Regions from separate parts of the Homo sapiens genome. Here region 1 is linked to region 2. The links come from fine-mapping of genetic effects on gene expression. A gene starts in region 2. The other region holds a variant in brackets. All regions are shown on one strand. Distances are from middle to middle.

What was found. PIP is the estimated chance that this variant, and not a neighbour inherited with it, causes the effect.
Region 1: its variant is fine-mapped to the expression of MYO1F in whole blood (INTERVAL, PIP above 0.99).

The regions. Positions count from the first base shown.
Region 1 is chr19:8,518,915-8,529,072 of GRCh38, reverse strand. MYO1F (myosin IF) reads left to right here. Exons shown (of 28, transcript NM_012335.4): 22 at 1,590-1,735; 23 at 2,138-2,284; 24 at 2,472-2,620; 25 at 3,511-3,594; 26 at 6,244-6,439; 27 at 6,527-6,696; 28 at 7,469-8,295. The coding sequence ends at 7,545. LOC124904633 (a long non-coding RNA gene) reads right to left here and starts at 2,628. Exons shown (of 3, transcript XR_007067131.1): 1 at 2,529-2,628. RefSeq lists enhancers at 2,345-3,320, 5,897-6,396 and a silencer at 3,361-3,440. The variant AG/G (reference allele first, on the strand shown) is at 6,037.
Region 2 is chr19:8,571,465-8,582,414 of GRCh38, reverse strand. MYO1F (myosin IF) reads left to right here and starts at 4,973. Exons shown (of 28, transcript NM_012335.4): 1 at 4,973-5,108. The coding sequence starts at 5,106. ADAMTS10 (ADAM metallopeptidase with thrombospondin type 1 motif 10) reads left to right here. Exons shown (of 26, transcript NM_030957.4): 26 at 1,413-2,175. The coding sequence ends at 1,522. RefSeq lists silencers at 1,586-1,635, 3,447-3,641, 4,862-5,011, 5,549-5,598 and enhancers at 5,719-5,898, 6,069-6,128, 6,469-6,528.

The DNA of each region.
Region 1 (10,158 bases), 53 kb after region 2:
TTGGGTACCTTCACCTGATCCACCCACCTGCTTTGGACAGGTCTGTGTGGCAGGTATGCCCTCTCAGGTGACCTGTATACCATCACCTTAAATGTTTTCACTGAGACAGGTATCCCCACTAGACCCAGAGAACTCTGACCGCAGGCCAGCTCAACCGGCTTGCACATTCACCCTTCTACCAGGTACACCCTCACCTGCCTTCCTGTACAAACTCATAGAGTTCAGATACACACCCGCTCACTTCCTCTCATGATCCAGATACTCCTATTTACCTGACTTGTACACCCTCACCTGAACCATAATACCTTTACCTGAGCTGGCTACAGTCACATGACCCAAGTACTTTCACCTGGTCTAAGTGTTCTCATCTGGCCCGGGAACCCATGTCCAGCAGGTGCCTTACCTACCCAGCACCTGTTCACTGACCCAAACACCCTTTTCTAGCCAACCAACCAACCAACACATTCCCATCTGACCTCGTTTCTTTTTTGTTTTTCTTTTTTGTTTTTTTGAGACAGAGTTTTGCTCTTTTGTGTGTGTGTGTTGAGTCAGAATCTTGTTATGTCGCCCAGGCTGGAGTGCAGTGGCACAACCTCGGCTCACTGCAACCTCTGCCTCCCAGGCTCAAGCAATTCTCCTGCCTCAGCCTCCCGAGTAGCTGGGACTACAGGCATGTGCCACCACGCCCAGCTAGTTTTTTGTATTTTTAGTAGAGATGGGGTTTCATGGTATTAGCCAGGATGGTCTCAATCTTCTGACCTTGTGATCCACCCACCTCAGCCTCCCAAAGTGCTGGGATTACAGGCGTGTGCCACCGCGCCTGATCTGTTATTTTTTGTTTGTTTGTTTTTGAGACAGGGTCTTGCTCTGTCACCCAGGCTGGAGTGCAGTGGCAGGATCTCGGCTCACTGCAACCTCATCCTCCTGGGTTCAAGCGATTCTCCTGTCTCAGCCTCCTGAGTAGCTGGGACTACAGGTGCCCACCACCTCGCCCAGCTAATTTTTGTATTTTTAGTAGAGACGGGGTTTCACCATGTTGGTCAGCCTGGTTTCAAACTCCTGACCTCATGATCTGCCCGCCTCGGCCTCCCAAAATGCTGGGATTACAGGCGTGAGCCATGGCACCCAGCCCTCCTTCTGTTTCTTATATAACAACTCATGGCCAGGCGTGGTGGCGCACACCTGTAATCCCAACCCTTTGGGAGGCCAAGGAGGACAGTTTGCTTGAGATCAGGAGCTCAAGACCAGCCTGGGCAACAGGGCAAAACCCTGAATCTACAAAAAATACCAAAATTAGCTGGGCATGGTGGTGCGCACCTGTGGTCCCAGCTACTCAGGAGGCTGAGGCAGGTGGATCACTCAAGCCCAGGAGGGGGAGGTTGCAGTGAGCTATGATGGCACCACTGCACTCCAGCCTGAGCGACAGAGTGAGACCCTGTCTACAAAACAGACGACTCATACACCTTCACCTGGAGGGCTCCCACCTTCCTCACCTGACCTGCCAGCACCACCCCTCTGCCTGGGGTGGATCCTCTGTGGCCAGGCTGGCCAGGCTACAGGCATCAGCCTCTAATCCTGCATCCCCACAGCCCATCAAGCGGGACTTGATCCTGACGCCCAAGTGTGTGTATGTGATTGGGCGAGAGAAAGTGAAGAAGGGACCTGAGAAGGGCCAGGTGTGTGAAGTCTTGAAGAAGAAAGTGGACATCCAGGCTCTGCGGGGAGTCTCCCTCAGGTGAAGCCAGGTCCTTACCTGCCGCACAGTCACTCTCACCTGTCCCCTGGCTGCCCTCATTCTAGTGACCCCGTCTGTTACCCTGACAATCTTACCTGGTGCCATGCCTGTAGCCCTCTGTTGGCCCCACCTGTCATGTTCACCTGCCCCCTATGCTCATGATCCTTAGATGCCAAATCCTTCCGTCCTGCACCTTACCCTCTTACTAGACCTCACCTGGCCCTCTTCTGTAACCACCTCTTCCACTCCTTGCCACATCCCCCTTTTTCTCCTACCTGGTCACCGCTGACTTGGCCCTTAGCTGACCCTTCCCTAAATCCACCTTCAGCCACCTTCATCTGTCTCTCTCACCTGTCGCCCTCACCTGTGTCCCACCTGACGCTCTCACCCGCCCCTCCCCAGCACGCGACAGGACGACTTCTTCATCCTCCAAGAGGATGCCGCCGACAGCTTCCTGGAGAGCGTCTTCAAGACCGAGTTTGTCAGCCTTCTGTGCAAGCGCTTCGAGGAGGCGACGCGGAGGCCCCTGCCCCTCACCTTCAGCGACACGTACGGCCCCGCCAACCCCAGCACCATCTCGGGGTGGTCTCGGCGCGGCGCACCCTCTCCCGCCCCACCGACCCGGCCGAACTGCGCTTCGGCCCCGGCCGCGGCCCCGCCCCTGCCCCAACCAGCGAGAGTTGGGTGGGGCGGGGGACCTCAGCCAGCGCCCCCAAGCTTTCTTCTCTCCCCATAGACTACAGTTTCGGGTGAAGAAGGAGGGCTGGGGCGGTGGCGGCACCCGCAGCGTCACCTTCTCCCGCGGCTTCGGCGACTTGGCAGTGCTCAAGGTTGGCGGTCGGACCCTCACGGTCAGCGTGGGCGATGGGCTGCCCAAGAGCTCCAGTGAGTCTGCGCGGAACTAGGGCAGAGGGGGCGGGGCCAGCGAGGCTGGTTAAGAGTGGACGAAGGCCAGGAAGGGGAGTGTCTACAGAGAGAGAGAGAGAGACTTTTGAGTTTTGTGGTTTTTTTAAGACGGAGTCTCACTCTGTCGCCCAGGCTGGAGTGTTGTGGCACGATCTTGGCTCACCGCAACCTCCGCCACCCGGGTTCAAGCGATTGTCTTGCCTCAGCCTCCCGAGTAGCTGGGATTACAGGCGCCTGCCACCGCGCCCAGCTAATTTTTGTAGTTTTAGTAGAGACGGGGTTTCACCATCTTGGCCAGGCTGGTCTTGAACTCATTACCTCATGCTCCACCCGCCTCGGCCTCCCAAAGTGCTGGGATTACAGGCGTGAGCCACTGCGCCCGGCCAGAGAGACAGACTTTTAAACAAAGGCCGCAACCAATTAGTGGGCGTGAAATGTGGAGGAGGGACGTGGCCATGGAGGAAACCAATCAAAATAGTGGGGCGGGGCCAGCAGGCTGGACCAGAGAGGGCAACAGCAAGGAAGGGGCGGGTCTAGAGAGAGAGAAAGACTGTTAAGGAGAAGACATGACCAATGCGGGGGCGAGAAATGTAGAGGGGTGCGGCCAGAGCGGCAACCCTGGAACTGGGTAGTGATGAAGGAGTGACCTAAAGTGGGCGGGCCCAAAGAGCAAGGCCAGTGAGGTGTTGGGCCCTTGGGGGGCGAGGCCAATTAGTGGGCGGAGCCAGTGTAACTGTACCTAAGGGGCGGTGCTAATGGGAGAGCCTGAGGGGGCGGGGTGCGGCGGAGCCTCAGAATGGACTAGATTTGTGGGCGGGGCAAAGAGCGTGGTCTGTCTGTCATTCAACTCCCTGACACTCTTCTTTCAGAGCCTACGCGGAAGGGAATGGCCAAGGGAAAACCTCGGAGGTCGTCCCAAGCCCCTACCCGGGCGGCCCCTGCGCCCCCCAGAGGTGAGGAGCTGCGTCCCTTGCTATATTCCCTTGTCTGTTGTGGGTCCCATGGCCTAAGCCAGACCTTCAGCAAACGAAATCTAACAAACACAGTTTACCACTCACTTCTCTGTCCAGGACTCTCCGTAGCTCCACATCTCCCGCAGAATAAAGGCTAAACTTAGTTTGGCATTCAGAGCCCTTCAAAACCCAAACCCAGCTAACCACTGACATCTTCTCTCCTCCTACCCTACACTCCTGCCCTGTAAACTACATCTTTTTTTTTTTTTTTTTTTTTTTGAGATGGAGTCCAACTCTGTCTCCCAGGCTGGGGTGCAGTGGAGCGATCTCGGTTCACTGCAACCTTCACCTCCTGGATTCAAGCGATTCTCCTGCCTCAGCCTCCCGAGTAGCTGAGATTACAGGCACCCGCCACCACGCCCGGCTAATTTTTGTATCGTTTTAGTAGAGACAGGGTTTCACCACGTTGTTCAGGCTGGTCTCGAACTCCTGACCTCAGGTGACCCGCCCGTCTCGGCCTCCGAAAGTGCTGGGATTAACAAGCATGAGCTACGGCGCCTGGCCTCAAACTACATCTTATTTTCCCAATTCACAAAATTTATTCTTACCTCCAGGCCTTTGGGCCGTTTTCTCTGCTTCTCTCTCAAATTCCCATTCCATTCGTTGAGCTCTTATTTATCCACCAAGACGTACCCACAGAAGCTCTCCTACAGAGGATAGGAGGAGGGAAACTTGCCCCTGCAAAGCCACTCCTGGCCAGGCAAGATGGCTCACACCTGTAATCCAAGCACTCTTGGTAGGCCAAGGCAGGAGGATCACTTGAGTTCAAGATCAGCCTGGGCAACATAGCAAGATCCTGTCTCTACCAAAAATTCTTTCTTTTTTTTTTTTTTTTTGAGACAGTCTCGCTCTGTCACCCAGGCTGGAGTGCAGTGGCATGATCTTGGCTCACTGCAACATCCACCTCCTGGGTTCAAGCGATTCTCCTGCCTCAGCCCCCTGAGTAGCTGGGACTACAGGCGTGTGCTACCACGCCTAGATTTTTTTTTTTTTTTTTTTTTTGAGACAGAGTCTAGCCCTGTTGCCCAGGCTGGGGTGCAATGGTGCGGTCTCAGCGCACTGCAACTTTCCACCTTCTGGGTTCAAGAGATTCTCCTGCCTCAGCCTCCCCAGTAGCTGGGATTACAGGCATGCACCACCATGCCCAGCTAATTTTATCTTTAGTAGAGACAAGGTTTCACCATGTTGGCCAGACTGGTCTGGAACTCCTGACCTCGTGATCCACCCGCCTCGGCCTCCCAAACTGCTGGGATTACAGGTGTGAGCCACCGCGCCCGGCCTTTTTTTTTTTTTTTTTTTTGAGACGGTGTCTTGCTCTGTTGCCCAGGCTGGAGTGCAGTGGCGTGATCTTGGCTCACTGTAACCTCCACCTCCCAGGTTGAAGCAATTCTCCTGCCTCAGCCTCCCGAGTAGCTGGGACTACAGGCACACGCCATCATGCCTGGCTAATTTTTGTATTTTTAGTAGAGGCAGAGTTTCACTATGTTGGCCAGGCTTGTCTCAAACTCCAGACCTCGTGATCAGCCCACCTTAGCCTCCCAAAGTGCTAGGATTACAGGCGTGAGCCACCGCGCCTAGCCTAAAAATTCTTTTTAAATTAGCTGGGCATGGTGGTGTGTGCCTATAGTCCCAGCTATTTAGGAGGCTGAGAGGGGAGAATATCATGAGCCTAAGAGTTGGAGTCTGCAGTGAGCTATGATCTCACTGCTGCACTCCATCCTGGGCCACAGAGCAAAACCCTGTCTCTAAACAAATAAAAAATAAATAAGGCCAAGTACAGTGGCTCATGCCTGTAAAACCAGCATGTTGGGAGGCCGAAGTGGGAGGATTGCTTGAGGCCAGGAGTTTGAGACCAGCCTGAGCAACATAGTGAGACCCCATCTCTACTTTAAAAATTATAAAAATCAACTGGGCATAGTGGAGCATACCTGTAGTCCCAGCTCCCCTTAAAAGGAGGCTAAGGAGGGAGGATTGCTTGAGCCCAGGAGGTCAGAGTTGCAGTGAGCTACGATTGTACCACTGCACTCCAACCTGGGCGAGAGTGAGACCATGTCTCAAAATAAACAAATAAAAGTAAAAAATAATTGGCCAGGCGCGGTGGCTCATGCCTGTAATCCCAGCACTTTGGGAGGCCAAGGCGGGCGGATCACAAGGTCAGGAGATCGAGACCATCCTGGCTAACATGATGAAACTCCGTCTCTACTAAAAATATTTAAAAAATTATCCAGGCGTGGTGGCAGGTGCCTGTAGTCCCAGCTACTCGGGAGGCTGAGGCAGGAGAATGGCGTGAACCCAGGAGGCGGAGCTTGCAGTGAGCCGAGATCGCGCCACTGCACTCCAGCCTGAGCGACTGAGCAAGACTCCATCTCAAAAAAAAAAAAA[AG/G]TAAAAAATAATTTTAAAATTATGCTTAAAAAAGCTTCTGTCTAGGCCCTCCTAGCGGCAGAGTCCCTCCGTCTGGCCCAATCCTTACCACACTGGGTTGAGAGTGTCGCAGTCTCCTCCCTCAGCCTGAGAACTTGAAGCCAAGTCCTCCTCAAATCCTCCTAGCATCACCCTAATACATGTCTTCATCCTTGCTCCTGCCACAGGCATGGATCGCAATGGGGTGCCCCCCTCTGCCAGAGGGGGCCCCCTGCCCCTGGAGATCATGTCTGGAGGGGGCACCCACAGGCCTCCCCGGGGCCCTCCGTCCACATCCCTGGGAGCCAGCAGACGACCCCGGGCACGTCCGCCCTCAGAGCACAACACAGAATTCCTCAACGTGCCTGACCAGGGCATGGCCGGGTAGGTGGGGTGGGAGGGCAGCTCCAGGAGGTGGGCAGGGGGTAGGGGAGTGTCTGGGGCTGTGACTCAAACCCCCTGTGCCCACAGCATGCAGAGGAAGCGCAGCGTGGGGCAACGGCCAGTGCCTGGTGTGGGCCGACCCAAGCCCCAGCCTCGGACACATGGTCCCAGGTGCCGGGCCCTATACCAGTACGTGGGCCAAGATGTGGACGAGCTGAGCTTCAACGTGAACGAGGTCATTGAGATCCTCATGGAAGGTGTGTGTACCAGGGCAGAAGCTGGGGTGAGGGGAGTGGTAAGAACCCTGACATCGGCCGGGCGCGGTGGCTCACGCCTGTAATCCCAGCATTTTGGGAGGCCAAGGCGGGCAGATCACGAGGTCAGGAGATCGAGACCATCCTGGCTAACACAGTGAAACCCCGTCTCTACTAAAAATACAAAAAATTAGCCGGGCGTGGTGGCGGGCGCCTGTAGTCCCAGCTACTCGGGAGGCTGAGGCAGGAGAATGGCATGAACCCGGGAGGCGGAGCTTGCAGTGAGCCGAGATTGCGCCAACACACTCCAGCCTGGGCGATAGAGCGAGACTCCGTCTCAAAAAAAAAAAAAAAAAGAACCCTGACTGACATTGCCAGGCAGACCCCACCACTGCACACCCTCCCCACGGGAGAACAGAGATAACAGATGGGCGAGGTGGCTCATACCTGTAATCCCAGCACTTTCAGTGGCTGAGGCAGGAGGATCACTTGAGGTCAGGAGTTTGAGACAAGCCTGGGCAACCTAGCAAGACCCCATCTCTACAAAAGATTTACAAAAAAAAAACTTTTAAAGAGTAGAAATGGCCGGATGCAGTGGCTCACACCTGTAATTCCAGCACTTTGGGAGGCTGAGGCAGGAGGATGGCTTAAGCCTAGGAGTTTAAGACCAGCCTGGACAACATAGGGAGTCCCCATGAACAAGATGGACAGACCAGGCATGAGAGCTTTCTCCAGGGCCAGCTAGGGGCACCTCAAGCTTTCCTCTCTCCCACAGATCCCTCGGGCTGGTGGAAGGGCCGGCTTCACGGCCAGGAGGGCCTTTTCCCAGGAAACTACGTGGAGAAGATCTGAGCTGGGCCCTGGGATACTGCCTTCTCTTTCGCCCGCCTATCTGCCTGCCGGCCTGGTGGGGAGCCAGGCCCTGCCAATGAGAGCCTCGTTTACCTGGGCTGCAATAGCCTAAAAGTCCAGTCCTTTGGCCTCCAGTCCTGCCCAGGCCCTGGGTCACCAGGTCACTGCTGCAGCCCCCGCCCCTGGGCCCTGGTCTTCCTCCAACATCACACCTGCTGCCCATTCTCCATTTCTGTGTGTGTCAAAGGGGACTAACAGCAGAATCTACCTCCCAACTGCCATGTGATTAAGAAATGGGTCTTGAGTCCTGTGCTGTTGGCAAAGTGCCAGGCACAGTTGGGGAGGGGGGGGTCCTTAACAAGCGTGACTTTGCTCATTCTGTCATCACTAAGGCAATAAACCTTTGCCAGGTGAAAGCACGAGTTAACTTACTAAGTGCCCAACAAGGACGATGTTTTCACAGCCCTGTGAGGTAGGAGCTGTGAAGGACCCCATCTTACAGGTGGAACAATGGAGGTTCAGAGAGGTTCACTGACCCAAGACTGCACAGAGCCATGCCTTGCATTCATATGTGACCATAAAGCTTGAATTTGTCCCAGTTTGGGCTGGGCGCAGTGGCTCACGCCTGTAATCCCAGCACTTTGGGAGGCTGAGGCGGGCAGATCACGTGAGACCAGGAGTTCAAGACCAGCCTGGATAACACAGCAAAACCCTGTTTCTACTAAAAATTTAAAAAAGAAAAAAAAAAAAGCCGGGTGTGGTGGTGCCTGCCTGTAATCCCAGCTACTGGGAAGGCTGAAGCAGGAGAATCACTTGAACCCGGGAGGCAGAGGCTGCCGTGAGCCGAGATCATGCCACTGCACTCCAGCCTGGGCAACAGAGCAAGACCCTGTCTCAGAAAAAAAGAAAGGAAGGAAGGGAGGGAGGGAGGGAGGAGGTGGGCGCGGTGCCTCACACCTGTAATCCTAGCACTTTGGGAGGCCGAGGCGGGCAGATCACAAGGTCAGGAGATCGAGACCATCCTGGCTAACATGGGGAAACCTTGTCTCTACTAAAAATACAAAAAAGTAGCCGGGCGTGGTGGCGGGCGCCTGTAGTCCCAGCTGCTCGGGAGGCTGAGGCAGGAAAATGGCATGAACCTGGGAGAAGGAGCTTGCAGTGAGCCGAGATTGCGCCACTGCCCTCCAGCCTGGGCAACAGAGCGAGACTCCATCTCAAAAAAAAAAAAAAGAAAGAAAAGAAAATAAAGAATTTGTCTCAGTTTCCCTTCCAAAATCTGCATCCCAAATGGTCCAGCAGGTCCTGTTAGTCTTGAAGCTACAGCCGCCAAACCCATCTGGGACCTATGGAGAGAGGCAGGTCCCACATGCCACATGCTCCCACCCTCAATGCACTCTGGGTCACTCCTGCCCCCTGCACCCCAATCCCATTTCTGTGCCCTCTTAGTCTTCACCTAACTGGGACTAAGACTGGAGTCCTGCTATGGTCTGAGCCTAAAGATCCTGAATTTTGGGCTGGGCGCAGTGGCTCATGCCTGTAATCCCAGCACTTTGGGAGGCCAAGGCGGGCGGATCATCTGAGGTCAGGAGTTCCAGACCAGCCTCACCAACATGGTGAAACCCTGTCTCTACTAAAAATACAAAAATTAGCTGGGCATGGTGGCACGTGCCTGTAGTCCCTGATACTTGAGAGGCTGAGGCAGGAGGTGGAGGCTGCAGTGAGCCAAGACTGCACCATGGAATTCCAGTCTGAGCAATAGAGTGAGACTCTGTCTCAAAAAAAAAAAAAAATTCCTGAATTTTGGGAGTGGTGGTGCATGCCTGTAGTCCCAGCACTTTGTGAGGCCGAGGCTGGAGGATCACTTGATCCCGGGAGTTCAAGGCTGAAGTGAGCTATGATCGCGTCACTGCACTCCAGCCTGGGCAACTCAGCAAGACCCTGTCTCTAATACTAAAATAAACCAAATCCTGGCCAAGCATGGTGCCTCACAGCTGTAATCCCAGCACTTTGGGAGGCCAAGGCAGGAGGATCACTTAAGGTTTGACCACCCTAGGCAACCTACTAATACCCTGTCTCTACAAAAAAATTTTAAAATTGGCCGGGCACGGTGGGTCACACTTGTAATCCCAGCACTTTGGGAGGCCAAGGCGGGCAGATCATAAGGTCAGGAGATCGAGACCATCCTGGCTAACACAGTGAAACCCCATCTCTGCTAAAAATACAAAAAATTAGCCGGGCGTGATGGTGCGCGCCCGTGGTCCCAGCTACTCGGGAGGCTGAGGCAGCAGAATTGCTTGAACCTGGGAGGCGGAGGTTGCAGTGAGCCGAGATGGCGCCACTGCACCCCAGCCTGGGTGACAGAGTGAGACTCCATCTCAAAAAAAAAAAAAGCTAGTGTCATGCCTGTATTCCCAGATACTCAGGAGGCTGAGATGGGAGGATCACTTGAGCCCAGCAGGTCGAGGCTGCAGTGAGCTGATTACAACATTGTACTCCAGCCTGGGCAACAGAGCTAACCCTGTCTCTCTCTAAAAATAATAATAATAATAATAATAATAATAATTAATTGTAGCTTTCTAATATGGACACCCGCTCTGTGCTCAGCCCCTCAAA
Region 2 (10,950 bases):
CTCACTGCAAGCTCCACCTCCCAGGTTCACGCCATTCTCCTGCCTCAGCCTCCTGAATAGCTGGGACTACAGGCGCCTGCCACCACGCCCGGCTAATTTTTGTATTTTTAGTAGAGACGGGGTTTCACCATGTTAGCCAGGATGGTCTCGATCTCCTGACCTCATGATCCGCCCGACTCAGCCTCCCAAAGTGCTGTGATTACAGGCGTGAGCCACCATGCCCGGCCTATCTTCACTTTATTAAAAAAGAAAACGAGTGAGGATTACAGCCCCAAATGGACATTTTTTCCTGGGTGCTATGAAAAGGAACAATGGAAAGGAAAGGGAATATTTGTCTTCTTTTGTTTTATTGGGTCGTGTTTGTTTGTTTGTTTGTTTGTTTGTTTGACAGGGTCTCGCTCTGTCGCCCAGGCTAGAGTGCAGTGGTGCCATCATAGCTCACTGCAGCCTCCACCTCCTGGGCTCAAGCGATCCTCCAGCCTCAGCCTCTTGAGTAGCTGGGACTACAGGCACATGCCACAACACCCGGCTAATTTTTCCTTTTTTTTTTTTTTGTTTTTTTGTTTTTTTGTTTTGTTTTGTGACAGAGTCTCGCTCTGTCTCCCAGGCTGGAGTACAGTGGTGCAATCGCGGCTCACTGAAACCTCTGCCTCCCGGGTTCAGGCAATTCTCCTGCCTCAGGCTGTCGAGTAGCTGGGATTACAGGCACCCGCCACCACGCCCAGCTAATTTTTATATTTTTAGTAGAGATGGGGTTTGATCACGTTGGCCAGGCTGGTTTCAAACTCCCGACCTGAAGTGATCCACCTGCCTCGGCCTCCCAAAGTGCTGAGATTACAGGCATGAGCCACCATGCCCAGCCTATTTTTTTCTTTTAATTAGTTTTTGTAGATGCAGTGCTCTCACTATGTTGCCCAGGCTGGTCTCAAACTCCTGGGCTCAAGCAGTCCTCCTGCCTTGGTCTCCCAAAGTGCTGGGATTACAGGCATGATACACTGTACCCGGCCCTTTTCTCATTACTAATGTGTCTGTGTTGGCCCCCAACCCTACACTCTCTCTCTTAAATCCTCAAAACAGCCTAGTGACATCGGTGCTATTATAAGCCCCCTTTGATAGTTGAGGAAACTAAGGCACAGAAGTCAGGCGTGGTTTGCTCACACCTGTAGTCCCAACTACTTAGGAGGCTGAGGTGAGAGGATCACTTGAGCTCAAGAGGTGGAGACCAGCCTGGTCAACATAGCAAGATAACATCTGTAAAAAAAAAAAAAAAAAAAAAAAAAAAAAGTAAATTTAAAAAGAAAGAAACCAAGGCACAGAAAGTCACTGGCCAGGAAGCACTGCAGGTCGTGTGTGCAGCCCTGCGGGGAGGGCAGCTGAGACCTGATTTTTCCTTCCTTCTCCCGTCCCCGCAGAGTGCAAGGATGTGAACAAGGTCGCCTACTGCCCCCTGGTGCTCAAATTTCAGTTCTGCAGCCGAGCCTACTTCCGCCAGATGTGCTGCAAAACCTGCCATGGCCACTAGGGGGCGCGCGGCACCCGGAGCCACAGCTGGCGGGGTCTCCGCCGCCAGCCCTGCAGCGGGCCGGCCAGAGGGGGCCCCGGGGGGGCGGGAACTGGGAGGGAAGGGTGAGACGGAGCCGGAAGTTATTTATTGGGAACCCCTGCAGGGCCCTGGCTGGGGGGATGGAGAGGGGCTGGCTATCCCCCCAGAGCCCCTCTTCAGCATCCGCCCCTTCCAGTTCACATAGTGAGACCCCCCCTCCAGGGTGGGTCTGGGGAGGGGACAGCTGTTCACCCCAGCACCCTTTGAACCCACCCTTAGGGAGTCCCCAACACTCCCCCCCTCCTTTGATCGGAATATGTACTGTGAAGAGTAGGGGTGGGGAGGTGGTCTGCCGGTGCCCTGCCCCCCAGCACTGCCCTACCCCTCCACTCCGAGCTGGGGGGGAATCTGTGTCTGCTATGGGAGGGGGGGGGGTAGCACCACCTCCCTGACACCCTCCCCTGACCTGACTAGGGGGAGGATCCACCCCAACCTCTGCCCTGCCCGCCCCAGGGGCACCCCGACATCCAGGCCACCCCCTCATGGTGCTACAGACCCTGCCCTGGGGCCCACACACTCCTGCCAGGAAGCCCTACATCAATAAAGTTCTGTCTTGTGTAGATTTCTACGAATTGCGGTGTGTGTGTGTCAGTGCATCCAGTAGCCCCCACCCAGGTCTGGAAAGGACCACCCATTCTCCCAGGTCTACCCAACAGCCAAAAGGGGACTTCTTTTTTTTTTTTCCTGAGACGGTCCCTGTCGCCCAGCTATGCCTATCATAGCTCACTGCAGCCTTGATCTCCTGGACTCAAGTGATCCTCCCACTTCCACCTTCTGAATAGCTGGGACTACAGGCGTGCACGACCACACCCAGCTGATTTATTTATTTTTTTTTTTTATTTTTTTTTTTTTTTGAGACGGAGTCTTGCACTGTTGCCCAGGCTGGAGTGCAGTGGCACGATCTCGGCTCACTGCAAGCTCCGCCTCCTGGGTTCATGCCATTCTCGCCTCAGCCTCCCGAGTAGCTGGCACTACAGGCGCCCGCCAACATGCCCAGCTAATTTTTTGTACTTTTTTAGTAGAGACGGGGTTTCACCGTGTTAGCCAGGATGGTCTCGATCTCCTGACCTCGTGATCTGCCCGCCTCGGCCTCCCAGAGTGCTGGGATTACAGGCATGGGCCACCGTGCCCAGCCAGAAGGGGACTTTTAACATTGCAGACAGGAACCCAGGGATTTTAGGAGAAAAGTACAACAGCTTCTCGTGGAAGGGTTTTGCTTTTTTGTTTTTGTTTTTTGAGACAGGGTCTCACTCTGTAGCCCAGGCTGGAGTTCAGTGGCACGATCTCAGCTCACTGCAGCCTTGAACTCCTGGGCTTAAACGATTCTCCTGCCTACCCTGCCAAGTAACTGAGATTATAGGTGCAACAGCACACCTAGCTGATTTTTTAATTTTTTGTAGAGACGAGGTCTTGCTATGTTGCCCAAGCTGGTCTGGAACTCCTGGGCTCAAGCGATCCTCCCACCTCAGCCTCCCAAAGTTCTGGGATTACAGGCATCAGCCACCATGCCTGGCCCTCACAGAGGCTCTTAAAGCCACACGGTCTAGCACCTGCCACCCTGGCCATCACACTCTCCGTCACTCCGCATGCTCCAGCCACACCAGCCTCCCCGAACTTCCTCAATTGCCCTATGGTTTTCCCATATCTGGGCCTTTGCTTGAGCGCTTAGCATGGCCAGGTGCACGCTCCTGCCCCTTTACCTTTTTTAACTCCAGCTTACTCGCCGGTGTCAGCACAAACGTTGCCTCTTCCTAGAAGCCTCCCCTGATGGCCCCCAACAAAGTGGGGTCCTCTTACCCATTCATATTCACTCTTGAGTGCCTGGAGACATTGCTGAGAATTGCATGCCCCAAGCCCGTCAATTCTGCAAACTCGCTCAGGAGATTCCAGCAGAGACGGGCTCCTTCCCAGCTGTGGCCACTAGGGGCGCTGCATATTAACATCTTCAAGGGGGATGCGGGTTTATCGCCCTGGACCAAAGATAGATCTGAACATGGGTCCCCCAGGGTCTCCCAGGGTCGGGTCCTGCCTCGGCCACCTCCTTGCTGGGTGGTGTGGGGAAGTAACAACCTATTAGAACTGCCATTTCCTCACATGTCAAGAGGAGCCTCAGGTGGTTGGCTGGTGTCCCAAAGACCAGCTCATAGGCTGACACGTACCTGGGCCAGGCTCTGCTGGGGGGACCCACGTTCCCATTTTACAATGAGAAAAGGGAGTAACTAAGTCATCCAGGAAGTAGCCAAACTGGAGGCTGTTAAATCTAGATGTGACATCCAAAGTCAGGGACCTTTCAGATGCACCTGCTTCCCAGTACCCTCCACTTCTGCACACAAACACGTGTGACTTCTGAGGGTCATCTAAAGAGGGAGGTTGGGCCAGGCGTGGTGGCTTATGCCTGTAATCCCAGCACTTTGGGAGGCCGAGTTGGGAGGATCACCTGAGGTCAGGAGTTCAAGGCCGGCCTGGCCAACATGGCGAAATTCCGTCTCTACTAAAAATACAAATATTAGCCAGGTGTGGCGGTGGGCACCTGTAATCCCAGCTACTCAGGAGGCTGAGGCAGGAGAATCGCTTGAACCCAGGAGGCGGAGATTAAAGTAAGCTGAGATTGCACCACTGCATTCTAGCCTGGGTGACAGAGCTAGACTCCGTCTCAAAATAATAACAATAATAATAATGAAGGAGGTTGCCCAGGGATGCCCAGAGCAGACACAGCTGAAGAAGGCACCCTTCCCTGTTGTTGTTGTTTTTTTGGTTTTTTTGTTTTTTCTGGTTTGTTTTTAGAGACAGGGTCTCACTCTTTCGCCCAGGCTGGAGTGCAGTGGCGCAATCAGGGCTCACTGAGGCCTCCACCTCCCAGGTTCAAGCAATCCTCCCACCTCAGCCCTCTGAGTAGCTGGGACTGCAGGCTCATGCCACCATGCCCAGCTAATTTTTTTTCTTTTCATTTTTTGTAGAGATGGGGTCATGCTATATAGCCCAGGCTGGTCTCAAACTCCTGGACTCAAGCGATCCTCCAACCTTGGCCCCCCAAAGTATTGGGATTACAGGCGTGAGCCACCTCCCCTGGGCCCCTTCCTTGGTTTTAAAAAGAGACCCGGGAAGCCCAAATGCTTCCTGAATCGCCCTGAAAAGAGGTGGTTCGTCCTGCAGCCAGCTGACCCAAATGTTCCTGCAGCAGCCCTGTCCCCAAGGAGTTGGGGAAGAGGCCTCTGAGGTCCAGTAGTGGCTGCCATCAAGTTCTGACCCCTCCCTTCAGGCTCAGAGCCCCAAACAGCCAGCTCCCCGCCCCCCTCCACACCCAGCTTCCCTCCCCCATGGCCTCGGCCCCTCCCGCCAAAGGAAGTGAGAAGGGGCTGTTGTAAGAGGAACTAAAGCCGGGAGTCCGGTGAACGGGCAGAAGCAGGGCCATGCCCAAGCCACCCCCAAGATCCCCCTGAACCTGCACCTCCATCACGACCCATTCAGGAGCCTCCAGGAGCCCAGACACCAGCCCCCCACCATGGTAAGTCCTTCAAGGGTGGGATCTGGAAGAAGAAAGAGGAGGGACACCAGCCAGGTGGAGGTGTCCTAAAAATGACCATCAGAAATTGGGGTGAGGGGAGGGGCATGGTGGACTTCTGTGGGGGTGGGGTGTCTCTCAGTGCAGCTCAGGTGCCTCCAGCATCCCTTACCAGGGAGCAAGCTCCCATCTGTAGGTGGTGGGGATGCCAGGGTGGTATCCCTGGATCCAAGGATAGGGCAGGACCTGGAAGACAGAAGGTGGCCCAGGGAGAATCACAGAGTCTGCAGGGACAAGGACATAGCCTCCTTTGCTTGCAAATTAAGGGAGCCCTTTCCCAGTCCAGCCCAGTCTCTCGTCTCCCTGTGTAGCCTTGGGCTAGTCACTTCCCCTCTCTTGGCCCCGGTTCCCACAGATGTCATATTTGGAAATCCGTCTAGATGCGGAAGTTGCTCTTCAGGGGTCTTTCAGTTGCAACATTCTCAAGGTCTGTGGGTTCTGCCACAGAGTCCTCGGCTGAGATGGGAAGCTATGTCTAACAAGCGATGGGGTGGATTGACGCCCTCCCTGTGCCGGTGACGGGCGGTATGGCTGCAGCAGAGGCAGGAGAGGCTGAATACGTCCATGCCACCCTTTGGTGGGCATCCCTTATCCCAAGAGGAGGATGGCAGCCAGAGGTGTTGCTGCCTGTCAAGTCTGAGGTCTGTCGATGATAGCAACGGGGAGACTGTCGTGATCATGGCGCTATTCCTAGCAGTATCGTACCACCATAAGACGCAAAGTAAGAGGTGGCCAGGGCTGACCCCACCCCACAGCTCTCTGCTGTGTAGACCACTTCAGCTTTCATTTCTCGTCATTCAGTCAGTGAGGATGAGAGCATGTGGCTGTGACAGCGGCCACTGCAGGATTCTTGGCAGGTACAGCTTACTAGGGTGGAGTCAGGGACATAGGGCAAGAGGCAGAGGTGGTGTTAGTCTGAGAGACAACACCTTCTTTCAGGAAGCCAGTGAGGGCCAGGGACAGTGGCTCATGCCTGTAATCCCAGCATTTTAGGAGGCTGAGACAGGTAGATCACTTGAGGTCAGGTGTTCGAGACCAGCCTGGCCAACGTGGTGAAACCTCGTCTCTACTAAAAAATACAAAAAATTAACTGGGCGTGGTGGCACACGCCTGTAATCCCAGCTACATATGAGGCTGAGGCAAGAGAATAACTTGAACCCAGGAGGCGGAGGGTGCAGTGAGCTGAGATCCTGCCGCTGCACTCCAGCCTGGGTGACAGAGCACACTCCGTCTCAAAAAAGGAAAGCTGATGAGAAATTGGGCATCCCGGAATTCACACCCAAACCATCAGCTGGAGCTCTGAGACTGTTGGGGTGGGAATTCTTCCAAGATGAGAAGCAAGCCAGGGAGGCTCAGGTCCTGGGATGGGCAGGGCTTTGATCAAAAGAACACAGGAAGTGATTTGCTACTTGAAAGAAAGGCAACCCCTCCCCAAGGAAGCCCTCTGAAAATGCTTAGTCAACAGTCGGCTTGGCAGACAAGGTCTGGGAGGGGCCACCCGTATCGCAGAGGATGATAGAAGAGAAAAAAATGACACCCACCTCTGTCTGGGGATGCTGAAATCTTCCTGGAGGAGTGGTGAATGCCAGGAAGATCGCTGAAGGATTCAATGAAACAGTATTTCTGAAGTCCTTTACAACAGGGTCCCCAACCCCCGGGGTCATGGACTGCTATCGGGCCATGGTCTGTCTGTTAGAAACCATGAGCCCTATCGGGTCACAGAGCAGGAGATGAGTGGCAGGCAAGCAAGCCCGAGCTCCACCTCCTCTCAGATTCTCGGGGGCGCCATTAGATTATCACAGGATCGCAAACCCTGTTGTGAACTGCACACACGAGGGATCCAGGTTGCATGCTGCTTATGACAATCTAATGCCCGGCCGGGTGCGGTGGCTCACACCTGTAATCCTAGCACTTTGGGAGGCCGAGGCGGGCAGATCACGAAGTCAAGAGATAGAAACGATCCTGGCCAACGTGGTGAGACCCCGTCTCTCCTAAAAATACAAAAATGAGCTGGGTGTGGTGGCACATGCCTGTCATCCTAGCTACTCGGGAGGCTGAGGCAGGAGAATCGCTTGAACCCGGGAGGCGGAGGTTGCAGTGAGCCAAGATCACACCATTGCACTACAGCCTCGGCGACAGAGCCAGACTCCGTCTCAAAAAAAAAAAAAAAAGAAAAAGAAAATCTAATGCCGTTGGCAGGGTGCAGTGGCTCATGCCTGTAATCTCAACACTTTTGGAGGCCGAGGTGGGCGGATCACCTGAGGTCAAGAGTTCAAGACCAGCCTGGCCAACATGGCAAAACCCTGTCTCTACTAAAAATACAAAAATTAGCCAGTCGTGGTGGTGCGCGCCTGTAACCCCAGCTACCCGGGAACCTGAGATAGGAGAATCACTTGAACCCAGGAGGCAGAGGTCGCAATGAGACGAGATCACGCCACTGCACTCCAGCCTGGGCCACAGAGAGAGGCTCCATCTCAAAAAAAAAAGAAAGAGAGAGAGAAAGAAAGAAAGAAAAAGAAAGAAAGAAAGAGAAAGAAAAAGAAAGAAAGAGAGAAAGAGAAAGGAAGAAAGAAAGAAAGAGAGAAAGAAGAAAGAGAAAGAAAGGAAAGAAAGAAAGAAAGAAAGAAAGAAAGAAAGAAAGAAAGAAAGAAAGAGAGAGAGAGAGAGAGAGAAAGAAAGAAAGAAAGAAAGAAAGAAAGAAAGAAAGAAAGAAAGAAAGGGAAAAAAGAAGAAATAAAGGAAAAGAAAGAAAAGAAAATCTAATGCCCCGCTCCATGGTCCATGGAAAAATTGTCTTCCATTAAACCGGTCTCTGGTGCCAAAAATGTTGGGGACCATTGCTTTACAGAGCACATAACATGCACTTGATCCATGGTAGCTGCCATTAGCTGGGATGTCCATTCATTTCTGGATTCAGCAATGAGGATGGACGGAGGTGACGATTGTGGTAATTGGGGAGGAGTTGCTGCGAGTGGTCATTGCTGGGTTGTTGGTGTCATTGGTTGTGGTGGTGGTTGTGGCTGTTTCTTGTTGCAGGTTCGTGGTGATAATGGCTCTTGCAGGTGGGCTGGTGGTGGTGGCGGTTGGTGTTTAATGTTGTTCGTTGGTGGTGGATTGTTTTCAGCTGGAAATTCTGGAGATGCTTGGTGACCAGTGGAATGATGACCATCGGTGGTTGCTGTTATTTGGAGAGGAAAGGTGTTGGTAGTAGCGTTCATTTGCTGCTGGTAGTTTATTGTTGGTTTCTGGTAAGATGATGATCAGCAATGGTGGTGCTGGTTCAATGTTGGGTTTTGAACAGGATAGGACTGGTGACTGCTGCTTTCTGTGGTTGCTAATGGTAGTTGGTTATGTGTGGTTGTTGATGGCTAGTATTGTTTTTTTGTTTTGTTTTGTTTCTGAGACAGAGTCTCGCTCTGTCACCCCGGCTGGAGTGCAGTGGTGCAATCTCGGCTCACTGCAACCTCCACCTCCTGGCTTCAAGCAATTCTCGTGCCTCAGCCTCCCAAGTAGCTGAGATTACAAGCACCTGCCACCACACCCAGCTAATTTTTGTGCTTTTAGTGGAGACGGGGTTTCGCCATGTTGGCCAGGCTGGTCTCCAACTCCTAACCTCAAGTGATCCACCCGCTTTGGCCTCCCAAAGTGTGAGATTACAGGTGTGAGCCACTGTGCCTGGCCGATGACTAGATGGTGGTTGGTTATTATAGCGTGGTGGTGGTGGTGGTGGTGATCGTGGGAGAATGTAAGGAAGGCTGATGCTGGAATTGCTCATGGGACCTGTCTGACATTGGCTAGTCATGATGGTATTGGAGTTATCAGCAGTTTCTGTTTGTCTTTGAGAAGGGTAGGAGAGAGAGTGAAGACGTTCACTGGTTGCCTTTGGTTGGTGATGGTGGTCATGTGAGGATAATAGTGATTGTCTCTTCTTTTTTTTTTGAGACAGAGTCTCGCTCTGTCACCCAGGATGGAGTGCAGTGGCATGATCTTGGCTCACTGCAAGCCCCACCTCCTAGGTTCATGCCATTCTCCTGCCTCAGCCTCCCGAGTAGCTGGGACTACAGGCGCCCGCCACCATGCCTGGCTAATTTTTTTCTATTTTTTTAGTAGAGATGGGGTTTCACCGTGTTAGCAAGGATGGTCTCGATCTCCTGACCTCGTGATCTGCCCGCCTCAGCCTCCCAAAGTGCTGGGATTATAGGCGTGAGCCACCACACCTGGCCAATAGTGATTGTTTCTAAGGTACAGTCACAGGGCCAGGAACAATGGCTCATGCCTGTAATCCCAACAGTTTGGAAGACGGAGGTGGGAGGATCACTTGAGGCCAGATGTTCGAGACCAGCCTGGGAGACATGGCAATACCCCATCTCTACAAAGCATTTAAAAGTTAGCCAGGCATGGTGGCATGGACCTGTAGTACCAGCTAATTGGGAAGCTGAGGTGGGAAGATCACTTGAGCCCAGGAGTTCCAGGCTGCAGTGAGCTGTGATGGCCCCACTGCACTCCAGCCTGAGCAACAGAGACAGACTCTGTTTCTAAACAAATAAATAAGATACAGCCACAAAGCAGGGAGACCAGTGAAGTGGCTGCTGGGTCCAGAATCAGTGGCCATGAGGATGGACAGGAAAGGCTGGGAGTCAAAAGGAATTTAGGAGAAAGAATCAGTTAAGACCACTAACTGGGCACGGGCACAGTGGCTCACACCTGTAATCCCAGCACTTTAGGAGGCCGAGGCAGGTGGATCACTTGAGGTCAGGTGTTCGAGACCAGTCTGGCCACCATGGTGAAACCCCATCTCTACTAAAAATACAAAAATTAGCCAAGCGGGGTGGCATGTGCCTGTAATCCCAGCTACTCAGGAGGCTGAGGCAGCAGAATCGCTTGAACCCGAGAGGCAGAGGTTGCAGTGAGCTGAGATCGCACCACTACACTCCAGCTTGGGCAACAGAGCGAGACTCTGTCTCAGAGGGGAAAAAAAAATGCCCATAATTGATTGGATGCAAAGAGTGAACGTAACAATGAATCAGAGACAGGCAGGTTTCTGTCTTGGGGGTTGGGGACCACATCCCAGAGGATCTTCCCCAAAAAGCAGGAGGGACAAGACCAGGGTTCCCCAGCTCCAGCTTCTGCGTGGAGATGTTTGAGACGGTAGCCACCGACTGTCAGCAATCTCCAGCGACGAGACAAAGAGCCCAGCTCCAGAAAGACAAGGGTCCCCACGTATAAAGGCCAGGCGCGGTGGCTTACGCCTGTAATCCCAATACTTTAGGAGGCCGAGGCGTGCGGATCACGAAGTCAGGAGATCGAGACCATCCTGGCTAACACAGTGAAACCCCGTCTCTAAAAATACAGGGGCTGGGCGCGGTGGCTTACACCTATAATCCCAGCACTTTGGGAGGCCGAGGCGGGCAGATCATGAGGTCAGGAGATCGAGACCATCCTGGCTAACATGGTGAAACCCCGTCTCTACTAAAAATACAAAAAATTACCCAGGCGTGGTGGCGGGTGCCTGTAGTCCCAGCTACTTGGGAGGCTGAGGCAGAAGAATGGCGTGAACTCGGGAGGCAGAGCTTGCAGTGAGCCGAGATGGCGCCACTGCACTCCAGCCTGGGTGAGAGAGCAAGACTCCGTCTCAAAACAATAAAAATACAAAAATACAAAAAAAAAATTAGCCGGGCGCGGTGGCGGGCGCCTGTAGTCCCAGCTACTCGGGAGGCTGAGGCAGGAGAATCGCTTGAACCCAGGAGGTGGAGGTTGCAGTGAGCCGAGATCATGCCACTGCACT